Linked DNA regions of Homo sapiens: region 1 is linked to region 2. The links come from fine-mapping of genetic effects on gene expression. A gene starts in region 2. The other region holds a variant in brackets. All regions are shown on one strand. Distances are between the middles of the regions. Region 1 overlaps ARL3 (ARF like GTPase 3). Region 2 holds the start of ACTR1A (actin related protein 1A).

The links.
Region 1: its variant is fine-mapped to the expression of ACTR1A in whole blood (INTERVAL, PIP above 0.99).

The regions. Positions count from the first base shown.
Region 1 is chr10:102,693,911-102,699,284 of GRCh38, reverse strand. The region is part of intron 3 of ARL3 (ARF like GTPase 3); the gene reads left to right. Among named protein-coding and RNA genes, the nearest start is that of ARL3, 18 kb to the left of the region's middle. The variant G/T (reference allele first, on the strand shown) is at 2,889.
Region 2 is chr10:102,500,157-102,505,530 of GRCh38, reverse strand. ACTR1A (actin related protein 1A) reads left to right here and starts at 2,819. Exons shown (of 11, transcript NM_005736.4): 1 at 2,819-2,931. The coding sequence starts at 2,884. It overlaps SUFU (SUFU negative regulator of hedgehog signaling), which reads right to left and starts at 1,559. Exons shown (of 12, transcript NM_016169.4): 1 at 1,197-1,559. The coding sequence starts at 1,378. RefSeq lists enhancers at 1-372, 2,841-2,940, 4,335-4,835 and silencers at 665-959, 1,274-1,743, 2,421-2,490.

The DNA.
Region 1 (5,374 bases), 190 kb before region 2:
TTCCACCACCATAACATTAATCACTGTGAATTTAGCAGGGATAGCAGAAGGCTACAGATTATAAAGGAAAAACATCTTTGTATAACTTGTATAAGATGTTTTGCTGTCGCTCAGTAACAATGTTGTACCCACACCCATCTTGGCAAAATAAAGTGTTATTAATTGCCATAGTGATTTGAATAGCAGAAGGGAAGTCAGAAGATCATGCCACTGACTGTCACCCCTAGGAAGACAACGAATCAAGTGTATTGCAAAGAGAGCAAGCAAAATAGTGAAAGTACTGGAAACCATGATGTGTAAGGAGTGGTTGAAAGACCTGAGAATGTTATTCCTGGAAAAGAGAACACTGGGAACTGTCTAGGCTGCTTCAAGAATTATCTTAAGTCAGAGGGATTGAATAGTTCTAGAGGGCTGAGCCAAGAGCAAGATGGGGAATGTTAGGTGGTAGAATGTAATTCAGATTAAGGAAGAAGTTTCCTATAATTACAATCGTCCAGTAGTAGGAGAAGCTGCCTCGTGCATTGGGAATACCCTGACTCAGGGAGCGTTCATTCAAGTGGAGGCCGAGATTTTAGCTCCCAGCTCGCTGTCACTTCCTTTAGGACCATCACAGTTTCAGAATTCTTGGAGATTTCACTGTCCACTTACATGATTTCCACAAAACCTCAGCCTCTCAGTTCCTTCACCAGCCCTCCTTCAATGGTCTTGTCATCTACTCTACCTCAGCCACATACTTGCATAATCATACCCTAAAACTAGGGGGGCTCATGAACTTAGATGGGAGAAAAATTGCATGTCGCTTTTACTAACCTCTAACCAAAAGTTTGCGTTTACATCAATTATGATGAAAGGCAATAAACTGCAATAATAGCAGCCATATCTATGTCTTTATTACGAATAGAAATCATCTAGACCAGGTGTGGTGGCTCATGCCTGTAATCTCAGCAGTTTGGGGTGGCTGAGGTGGGAGGATCGCTTGAGCCCAGGAGGCGGAGGTTGCAGTGAGCCCAGATTGAGATCAGGCCACCACACTCCAGCCTGGAAGACAGAGTGATACTCTGTCTCAAGACAAGAAAAAAAAAAAGAAATCATCTTGCATCTCAAACAGCTTCACCTTCTGCTGTTGTTTCCTAAGTGTCTCTCTCCTCTGGATCATTCCCATCAACATAAACATATCCTGTAGCTTCTCTTGCTTAATGAAGAAAAAATAAGCCCCAGAAAACTCCTCCTGACCATACATCCCCCTCCAATACTGTCCCATTCCTCAGCCTCCCTTTATAGCAAAACTCCTTGAAAGAGTTTGTTATGCTCTCTGTCTTTGCTTTATCTCCTCCTAGTTACTCTTGAGCCTTCTTTTCAGGGTCACTGATAATTCCACATTGCTAAAAGTAGGGTTCAGTTTTCAGTACTCATCTCACTTGACCTATCAGGCCATTTAACATTGGTCATGCTCTCTTTGAAACATTGTCTTTTCTTGGCTTCCAAGACACCATTCTATCTTGGTTTTCCTCCTCACTGGCTACTCCTCCTAAATCTCCATTGCTATTTTTTTTTAATCTCCCAACCTCCAAATGTTAGAGAGCCCCGGAGTCCTTGTGTTTTTCTTCTCTGAGTCACTGCTTAGGTGACCTCGTCTAATTTGAAGGATTTAATGACCACTTAGATGCTTATGAATCTCAAACTATCATCTCTAGCCTGGAATTCTCCCCTGAACTTGAGTTTCATATACAGTCATGTGCCACATAATGACACTTGGGTCAGTGACTGACCTCATAAATGATAGTGGTCCCTTAAGATTATAATAGAGCTGCCGGGCGCAGCGGCTCACGCCTGTAATCCCAGCACTTTGGGAGGCCAAGGCAGGTGGATCACGAGGTCAGGAATTCAAGACTAGCCTGGCCAAGATGGTGAAACTGCATCTCTACTAAAAATATGAAAATTAGCTGGGCATGGTGGTGGATGCCTGTAATCCCAGCTACTCAGGAGGCTGAGGAAGAGAATTGCTTGAACCCAGGAGGTGGAGATTGCGGTGAGCCAAGATTGCGCCACTGCACTCCAGCCTGGGCAACACAGCGAGACTCTCTTTCTCAAAAAAAAAAAAAAATTATAATAAAGCTGAAAAATTTATATTACCTAGTGACATAGCTGTCATAACACATTACCTTTTATATGTTTAGATCCATAAATACTTACCATTGTTTTACAGTTGCCTGCAGTATTCGATACAGTAACTTCGTGTACAGGTTTGTAGCCTGGGGCAATAGGCTATGCCATACAGCCTAGGTGTGCAGTAGACCATCTAGGTGTGTGTAAGTACACTGTATGATGTTGGCACCATGTCAGAATTGCCTAATAATGCATTTCTCAGAACATGCCCCTGTCATTAAGCAACACATGACTATATAAGCCAGCTGCCTATTTGACATCTCCACTTCAGCGGCTGGTAAGTCCCTCAGCCTCAACATGTCTAAAACCAAATTCCTGTTTTCATCCTGTTCTACTCAACCCTACTCTTCCCACAGTCTTCTCAGTAAATGGGAGTCCCATTCCTCCGGAAACAATGCAATCATCCTTGGCTCCCTCTCCTCACTCCCCTCATCTGATCTATCAGCAGATTCTTTGTACCTATTGCCATCAGACGTATTTTTATTTATTAGCTTTCTCTTGCACTGTAAGGTAAGCTCCGTGAGGACAGGAATTTTTGCATTTTAAAAAACTGTTGGCCGGGTGCGGTGGCTCACGCCTGTAATCCCAGCACTTTGGGAGGCTGAGGCGGGTGGATCACAAGGTCAGGAGTTCAAGACCAGCCTGGCCAAGATGGTGAAACCCCATCTCTACTAAAAATACAAAAAATTAGCCAGGCGTGGTGGTGGGCGCCTGTAATCCCA[G/T]CTATTTGGGAGGCTGAGGCAGAGAATTGCTTGAATCAGGGAGGTGCAGGTTGCAGTGAGCCAAGATTGCGCCACTGCTCTCCAGCTTTGGCGACAGACCAAGACTCCGTCTCAAAAAAAAAAAAAAAATGTTGGCCAGGCTCTGTGGCTAACGCTTGTAATCCCAGCACTTTGGGAGGCCGAGGTGGGTGGATCACGAGGTCAGGAGATCGAGACCATCCTGGCTAACACGGTGAAACCCCGTCTCTACTAAAAAATACAAAAAAATAGCCGGGCATGGTGGCGGGCGCCTGTAGTCCTAGCTGCTCGGGAGGCTGAGGCAGGAGAATGGCATGAACCTGGGAGGCGGAGCTTGCAGTGAGCCAAGATTGCACCACTGCACTCCAGCCTGGGTGACAGAGTGAGACTCTGTCTGAATAAAAAATAAAATAAGGCCGGGCATGGTGGTCACTCCAGCCTGGGCAACAAGAGTGAGACTCTCTCTAAGATAAGATGAGATAAGATAAGGTGAGGTAAGATAAAATTCTTTTAATTCAGAAAAAAACAAAAAAATAAAAATAATTAAAAATATTTTAAATCAGGCCTGGTGCGATGGCTCATTCCTGTAATCCCAGCACTTTGGGAGGCCGAGGCAAGTGGATCACTTAAGGTCAGGAGTTCGAGACCAGCTTGACCAACATGGAGAAACCCCGTCTCTACTAAAAATACAAAATTAGCTGGGCGTGGCGGCACATGCCCGTAAGCTACTCAGGTGGAAAATCGCTTAAACCCGGAAGGTGGAGGTTGCGGTGAGCCAAGATCATGGCATTGCATTCCAGCCAGGGCAACAAGAGTCTCAAAACAAAAAACAAGTCTCAAAAACAAAAAAAAAATTTTAAATCAACAAGGAAACACTTAGAACTAATAAGTGATCATACCAAGGCTGCAGGATATAAGGTTAATATGTACAAGTCGGTTGCTTTCCTTTATATCAGCAGTGAACAATTGAAATTTGAAATTAATAGCAAAATACCATTTAGCACCCCCAAAATGAAACACTTAGGCATAAATCTAACAAAATACATTCAGGACCTACTTGAAGAAACCTGCAAAACTCATAAAGAAGATCTAGGTAAATAAAGAGACAGTCCGTGCTCATGGATAGGAAAACTCAGTATTATTAAGATGTCAGTTATACCCAACTTGATTTATAGATTTAATAGAATCCCAATCAAAATCACAGCAAGTTACTTTGGGGATATTGACAAACTGATTCTAATGTTTATATGGAAAAGCAAAAGATTTAGATGGCTAACATAGTACTGAAAAGGAACAAGTTAGAGGACTGACACTACCTGACATCAAGATTCTCTGTAAAGCAAGTAAACAAGACAGCATAGGCCGGGCGCAGTGGCTCACGCCCGCACTCCCAACACTTTGGGAGGCTGAGGCAGGCAGATCACCTGAGGTCAGGAGTTCAAGAGCAGCCTGGCCAATGGGGTGAAACCCCATCTGTATTAAAAATACAAAAATTAGCCGGGTGTAGTGGCAGGCACCTGTAATCCCAGCTGCTCGGGAGGCTAAGACAGGAGAATCGCTTGAACCCAGGAGGCAGAGGTTGCAGTGAGCCGAGATTGCACCATTGCACTCCAGCCTGGGCAACAAGTGTGAAACTCCGTCTCAAAAAAAAAAGAAGACAGCATACATTAGAGAAAGAGTAGACAAATTGATCAACAGAACAGAATAGAGAGCCCCAAAATAGGCTTACATGAATATGGCCCACTCTCTCTGACAAAAGAACATGACAGTTCAAGGGAGGAAGGATAATCTTTTCAGCAAGTGGCGCTGGAATAATGGGACATCGACATGCAAAAAAAAAAGAATCTAGACCCATCCTTACCCCTTAACTTAAAATGTTAAAATAGATTCTTTTTTCCTTCGACCTAGAGCCCTTGACAAAATGGATCTTAAACCTAAATGTAAAACCCAAACACTATAAAACTCCTAGAAGACAACATAGGAGAACATCTAGGTGACCTTGAGTTTGGTGATGAGGTTTTAGATACACAAAAAGCATAATCCATGAAAGAAATAAATTGGACTTAAATGAATTTAAAACTTCTGGAAGCAGCCGGGCGCGGTGGCTCATGCCTGTAATCCCAGCACTTTGGGAGGCCAAGGCGGGAGGATCACGAGGTCAGGAGATCGAGACCATCCTGGCTAACACGGTGAAACCCCATCTCTACAAAAAATACAAAAAAAATTAGCCGGGCGCGGTGGCAGGCGCCTGTAGTCCCAGCTACTCAGGAGGCTGAGGCAGGAGAATGGCGTGAACGTGGGAGGCAGAGCTTGCAGTGAGCCGAGATCACACCACTGCACTCCAGCCTGGGCGACAGAGCAAGAATCCATCTCAAAAAAAATAAATAAAAATAAAACTTCTGGAAGCTGGATTTGGTGGCTCATGTCTGTAATCTCAGCCCTTTGGGAGGCCGAGGTGGGAGGATGCT
Region 2 (5,374 bases):
AAGGAGAGGTAACCAGCAAAGATGTCCACTTGCCCCTTCAGGTCTACCCTTTGGCTACACCCCCAAGCAGCTGCAGAACAGTCTTTCAAGACTCATTGAAGATCATCTTACACAATGCCTGCATGAATGTGGTCCTGGACAGTTTCAACCAATATCTCAGTTTTTGGTCCAGCAAGACTTTGAGGACAGGTTCTTTTCCAGAGTCCCCAGAACATCTGTTCTGCCCAAATGCTGAAGGAAGAAACAGGCTGCAAACAGGAATGGGAAATTAGAAAAGACCATTCCTACCCTAAAGCTACTTGAGGGTTACTCTCAGCTCCCCGGAGAAACTGCAGGCCATGGCCGAGAAGCTCCTCTTAATGTCCCACTGCACAATTCCTCCCTGCTGGGGTCCCAGAGTCTCCACCATTTATTTCCAACTGGAGGTGGGAAGCTGTCGGCCCCTTCAATCCTAAGCCAAACCATGGTTCTCTCTACCTAATGCCCTAAAGCGAAGCAACTGCAGAGCTAGGAGGAAGCTCTGCACGGAGAAAGAGAACAGTGCAGAGTAAGCAAAAAGTTTATCAGGAAGAGCTGCTCCGTCAAACTTCAAAAGCAAAAGCTTTGCCCTGATACGACGTCTGAGCTAATCGGGAAGGTATCAAAAGGAGACCTCCTCCTCTCTCCACAAGCACCAGGCCCTCATCTTTGGCCCTCCTACCCACCACAGGAGAGCCCTGGGCCCCCCGAACCCCCCATTCTATGCAGTCTCGTGCCCTCTGAGCTTCTTCGGCTTCGCTCCTCCAAAGCCCTCTCAAATGCTCCCCAGGCCCCGCCTCGCCTCTCCCATCCCACTTCGGCCGCCCCCGCTTGGCTTCCCCTCGCCCACTAATGACCCCCTACAGGCGCCCCCTCTTTTCACCACGTTTACAGTTCCCTCGCTCCTGCCGTTCCCCCCTCTGCTCCTACACACACCCCCAGTCCTCACTCTATTCTCCTAATCCCGGTTAACCCCTCAGTACCCACGGGCTCCGTTAACCCCTTTGTCCCCATTCCCAACTTGAGCCTTAACTCCTTCCCTCGCAGCAAGAAGCCCTCCTTCTGAGTGCTTTAACCATTCTCTACCCCTCCTCCCACCTCCCACAAATTACTTCGCCCTCGGCGCTTTAACCCTTTCCAGCCCGCGCCTGTCCGTCTCCCCGCGGCCCAGAGCATACCAGTACTTGACGATAGCGGTAACCTGGAGCGGGTTCGGCTGGTCAGGGTAAAGGCGGCGGCACTCTCCGTAGATGGCGTGCAGTCCCGGGGGAAAGAGCGAAGCGAAGGCCGGGGGGGCAGTCGGGCCAGGGGCCGGGGGCGCGGTGGGGCCGGGGGCGCCGCTAGGCCGCAGCTCCGCCATCGGGGTGCGTAGGGCAGGCACTGGGGGAACTGGAGAGGGCAAACGACGGGGAGAGCACTGACGGGCCAGCGGGCGGACTCGGTGGGTGAGACTCCCCGAGGCGATGGGGGCTGCAGCGAGGTCTAGCTCCGCGCCTGCGCACGGCGCACTGTCCGCCCAGGCTGTCGCCGCCGCCGAGTCTGCCAGAGGGTGCCTCGGGGCGGCGGGGCGCTAAGGGGGGCGGGGCGCCGGCGCACCCTATCCAAGCACCCATTGGCTAATGTCTGTGCCAGTCACAGGCAGGGAAGGTGTGACTTGACAATAGGCCCCGCCTCCCCTCCCTGTGTTGGGAGTGTCCCAAGGCTCTTGGTCTCCCCCTAGTGTTAGGAGGAACCCAAGTTTAGAGATGCTGAGCACCCTCTGAGGTGCTAAGGTCCCACGAAAGCAGCGAGAAGTGCGCCAACAAAGGATTTGTTACTGTTTTGCTGACGCGCTGCTAACTAGGATTTAAACATAAATCTGACAATGGATTGATTCATTCATCCATGGGGCGTTAGTATTAATAGATGATAATAAATCTAATGTTTTCTAGGGCTATTGACAAAAAGGTCCCTGAAATTTCAAGGGGGCTGGGGGAGAACATAATCCAGAGAAAAAAATGCACTGGGCTCATTTGAAAGCAGTGACACATAACCTCTCTTCACCTCCATTTTCTCAACCATCAGTGTCAATTCTAGCTCGTTATGAAAATTAAAGAGATACTCGAGCAGTTTCTGAAACCCTTAGATGATGTTTTAATGACCAAAAGATTACCTATACCAGTAGTTCCAATTGCCAATCTTCGGATCAATGTTAGCCTGTTATGCAGAAAAAAAGAAAATGCAAAAGGCAACGACAATGTACAGGTTTTTAAACTTAAAGCTAATTTTATGCAATTTAAATTGTTTTCCTTTGTTGTAGGAATATGTCCTCTCGCGTACGTGTGTTAACATTTCCTTTTTGTTAGAGTGTGAGGTGCTAGGAGATGTTTATTAAAGTCTTACAGACCCAAATAAAAACATGAGAACCTTATATTGTCTAAGGGAACGTCGGGGGGAGTGGCAGGGCTGATCTGCAAAATCCAAACATCCATGAATTACGACCAATCCAAACCGAACTACAGACAAGTACTCGAGAAGACTACATACCTCAGCATGCACTGCGAACTCCTTCAAAGGGACTACAGATCCAGGCATGCAACATGACCATCAACCTGTGTCTCTGGCTGTTTAATCTAGGGAGACCACAAATCCCAGGGTACTGCGCATTGGAAATGCGACTCCCAATCTTAAACTAGGCGGGCAACAAAGCAAGCTAGATCGCTAACCCAGGCGCAAAGCTTGCTGGGGATTGTAGTTCTTCAGAGGCGAGGTCGGGCCGCTCCCTCGCCGCCCTGAACCGGCGGCTAGACTGCGCATGCGTGTCAGTGGCGCTAGCGGCGGACCCGGCTGGGCAGTTCCTTCCCCAGAAGGAGAGATTCCTCTGCCATGGAGTCCTACGATGTGATCGCCAACCAGCCTGTCGTGATCGACAACGTGAGTTGCGTCTTTCCTATCTATAAGGGGACTTGGGCTCTCCTCCTCGAAAGGATCGCTTCCCGGGGTTCAGCCTGAGCCGCCGGCTCTTTGTCACTGGCCCGGCCTGTCAGGCGCGTTCAGCCACCGCCGCCTCCTTCCTCCCCTTATCACATAGTCCGCAGGCAAGGCGGCCAGCCAGCAAAAGTGGGATGGAGAACTCTGGAGTGGATAAAGGAAAGAGTTATAGTCCAAGCCAGTCCTTGGGCCCTTGGCTCTAGGGGCCTTAACCGCTGTGTGAGATTCCCGTCGCCCGCCCTCTCCCCCATTTCCGATCGCTCTATTGGTTGCTCTGGCTGTCCATCTTAGCCAATGATACCGCCTCTTAGCCTTGCCGGATGAGGCTAGGCCTCTGCGGTGATTGGCTCACGCCCCTGCCATTCTTCCTTGCCGCCATATTGTTTTCCCTCTTGAAGGGGCGGGGCAGTGCTCCAGGGCTGTGGGGATTGGCTTCCGGGACTCTGGGTGGTGGGGCCTAGAGGCGAGTGCCCGCCCGCGGGTGGAGAACGGCTAAGTTTTCCTTCGGTCTCAGCCGGCGCTGCGGCTTGGTGGTGTGGATCTGGGTGGGGCCCGAGAATCTGGTGCCAGAAACCGCTGTAGGATGTCAGCTATTACTGTGATTATAAATTACAAAGTTGGTAAAGGTCGAGAAGAAAGGAGAGTGACAAAGGAAGCAGAGAGGTTGTCCTCCTCTTTGGAACGCCTAGTTCTTACGGGGAAAAAATTACCAAACTTAATATTTGCCTGGCGCTCTAGCGCTTCCAGGGCGTTTTCACATACATTCGAGTTGGATCCTCACAAAAACTGGACGCATAGTTTAAAAGGAACTTTGATCTTCGTGTTACCGATGAGAAAACTGAAGCGCGAAGACGTAACGTGAGCCCAAGGTCACATAGCAGAGGTGCCCTAAATCCAGTACTTTATCCGTCATCCCTTTTGCCAGCACCACCATGCAGAAGCATCAATATTGACCAATAGAAAGAATCTAAATACTGCTCTTATTTTGGGGGGAAAGGAGAAAATTGTAAAACGACTGCATTTCTGCCTTCGATTCAAAGCTTTGGTCCCACAGAGATTGATCCCTGTCTGTGTCCCTTGTAGGTCCCTCCATTGAGGCAAAACTACCAGTTCCCTCTGTTGTAAGCTGACTCTGTCAGATTCCCTTTGTTGATTCAGCTCTTGGGACCTTAGGCATATTACAATGTTCTCGTTTAAGCTTCAGCTCTGTTAGGTAGATAGGAATTACTATCCCCAGTGTATGCAGGGATGTTAAATAACAGATTTCAAACCATCCAGTTTAGGAATTGAGGAGCCAGTCATCAGACTAAGATCCAGTTCCAAGTTGCTTGCTTTTTCCAATATATTTTTGTTGTTGTTTTCATTAAATTTTCCTTCTCTCCATGGGTATTTTGTTTTTATTATTCCCCCTTAGAAAGGGGCAGGATTGAGCTCAATGAGACAGCTCATTTTTTTTTTCTTTTTTTTTTTTGGAGACAGGGTCTCGCTCTGTTGCTGAGTCTGAAATGCAGTGGCGCGATCACAGCTCACTGCAGCCTCAACCTCCTGGGCTCAAGTGATCCTCCCGCTTAAGCCTCCCGAGTAGCTGGGGCTGCAGGCACGCGCCACCACCCCTGGCTAATTTTTGTATTTTTTGTAGGAAGGGTTTCACCATGTTGTCCAGGCTGGTCTCAAACTCCTGGGCTGTTGCGATTCTCCTACCTTGGCCTCCCAAAGTGCTGGGATTATAGGCCTGAGCCACCGTGCCTGGCAGAGACGCCTCTTTTTTTGGTGTGGGGGGGTGGAGGGAACAGGATCTCGCTTTGTCACCCAGGCTGGAGTGCAATTGTGCGATCTCAGCTCACTGCAGCCTCCGCCTCCAGGTTCAAGAGATTCTCCAGCCTAGACTCCCAAGTAGCTGGGATTACAGATGTGCACCACCACGCCTGGCTAATTTTTGTTTGTTTGTTTGTTTGTTTGTTTGTTTGTTTGTTTTTGAGACGGAGTCTCACTGTCGCCCAGGCTGGAGTGCAGTGGCGCGATCTCGGCTCACTGCAAGCTCCGCCTCCCGGGTTCACGCCATTCTCCTGCCTCAGCCTCCCGAGTAGCTGGGACTACAGGCGCCCGTCACCTCGCCCGGCTAATTTTTTGTATTTTTAGTAGAGATGGGGTTTCACCGTGTTAGCCAGGATGGTCTCGATCTCCTGACCTCGTGATCCGCCCACCTCGGCCTCCCAAAGTGCTGGTATTACAGGCGTCAGCCACCGCGCCCGGCCTAATTTTTGTATTTTTAGTAGAGATGGGGTTTCACCATATTGGCCAGACTTGTCCTGAACTCCTGACCTCAAATGATCCACCCGCCTTGGCCTCCCAAAGTGCTGGGATTACAAGCATGAGCCACCACACC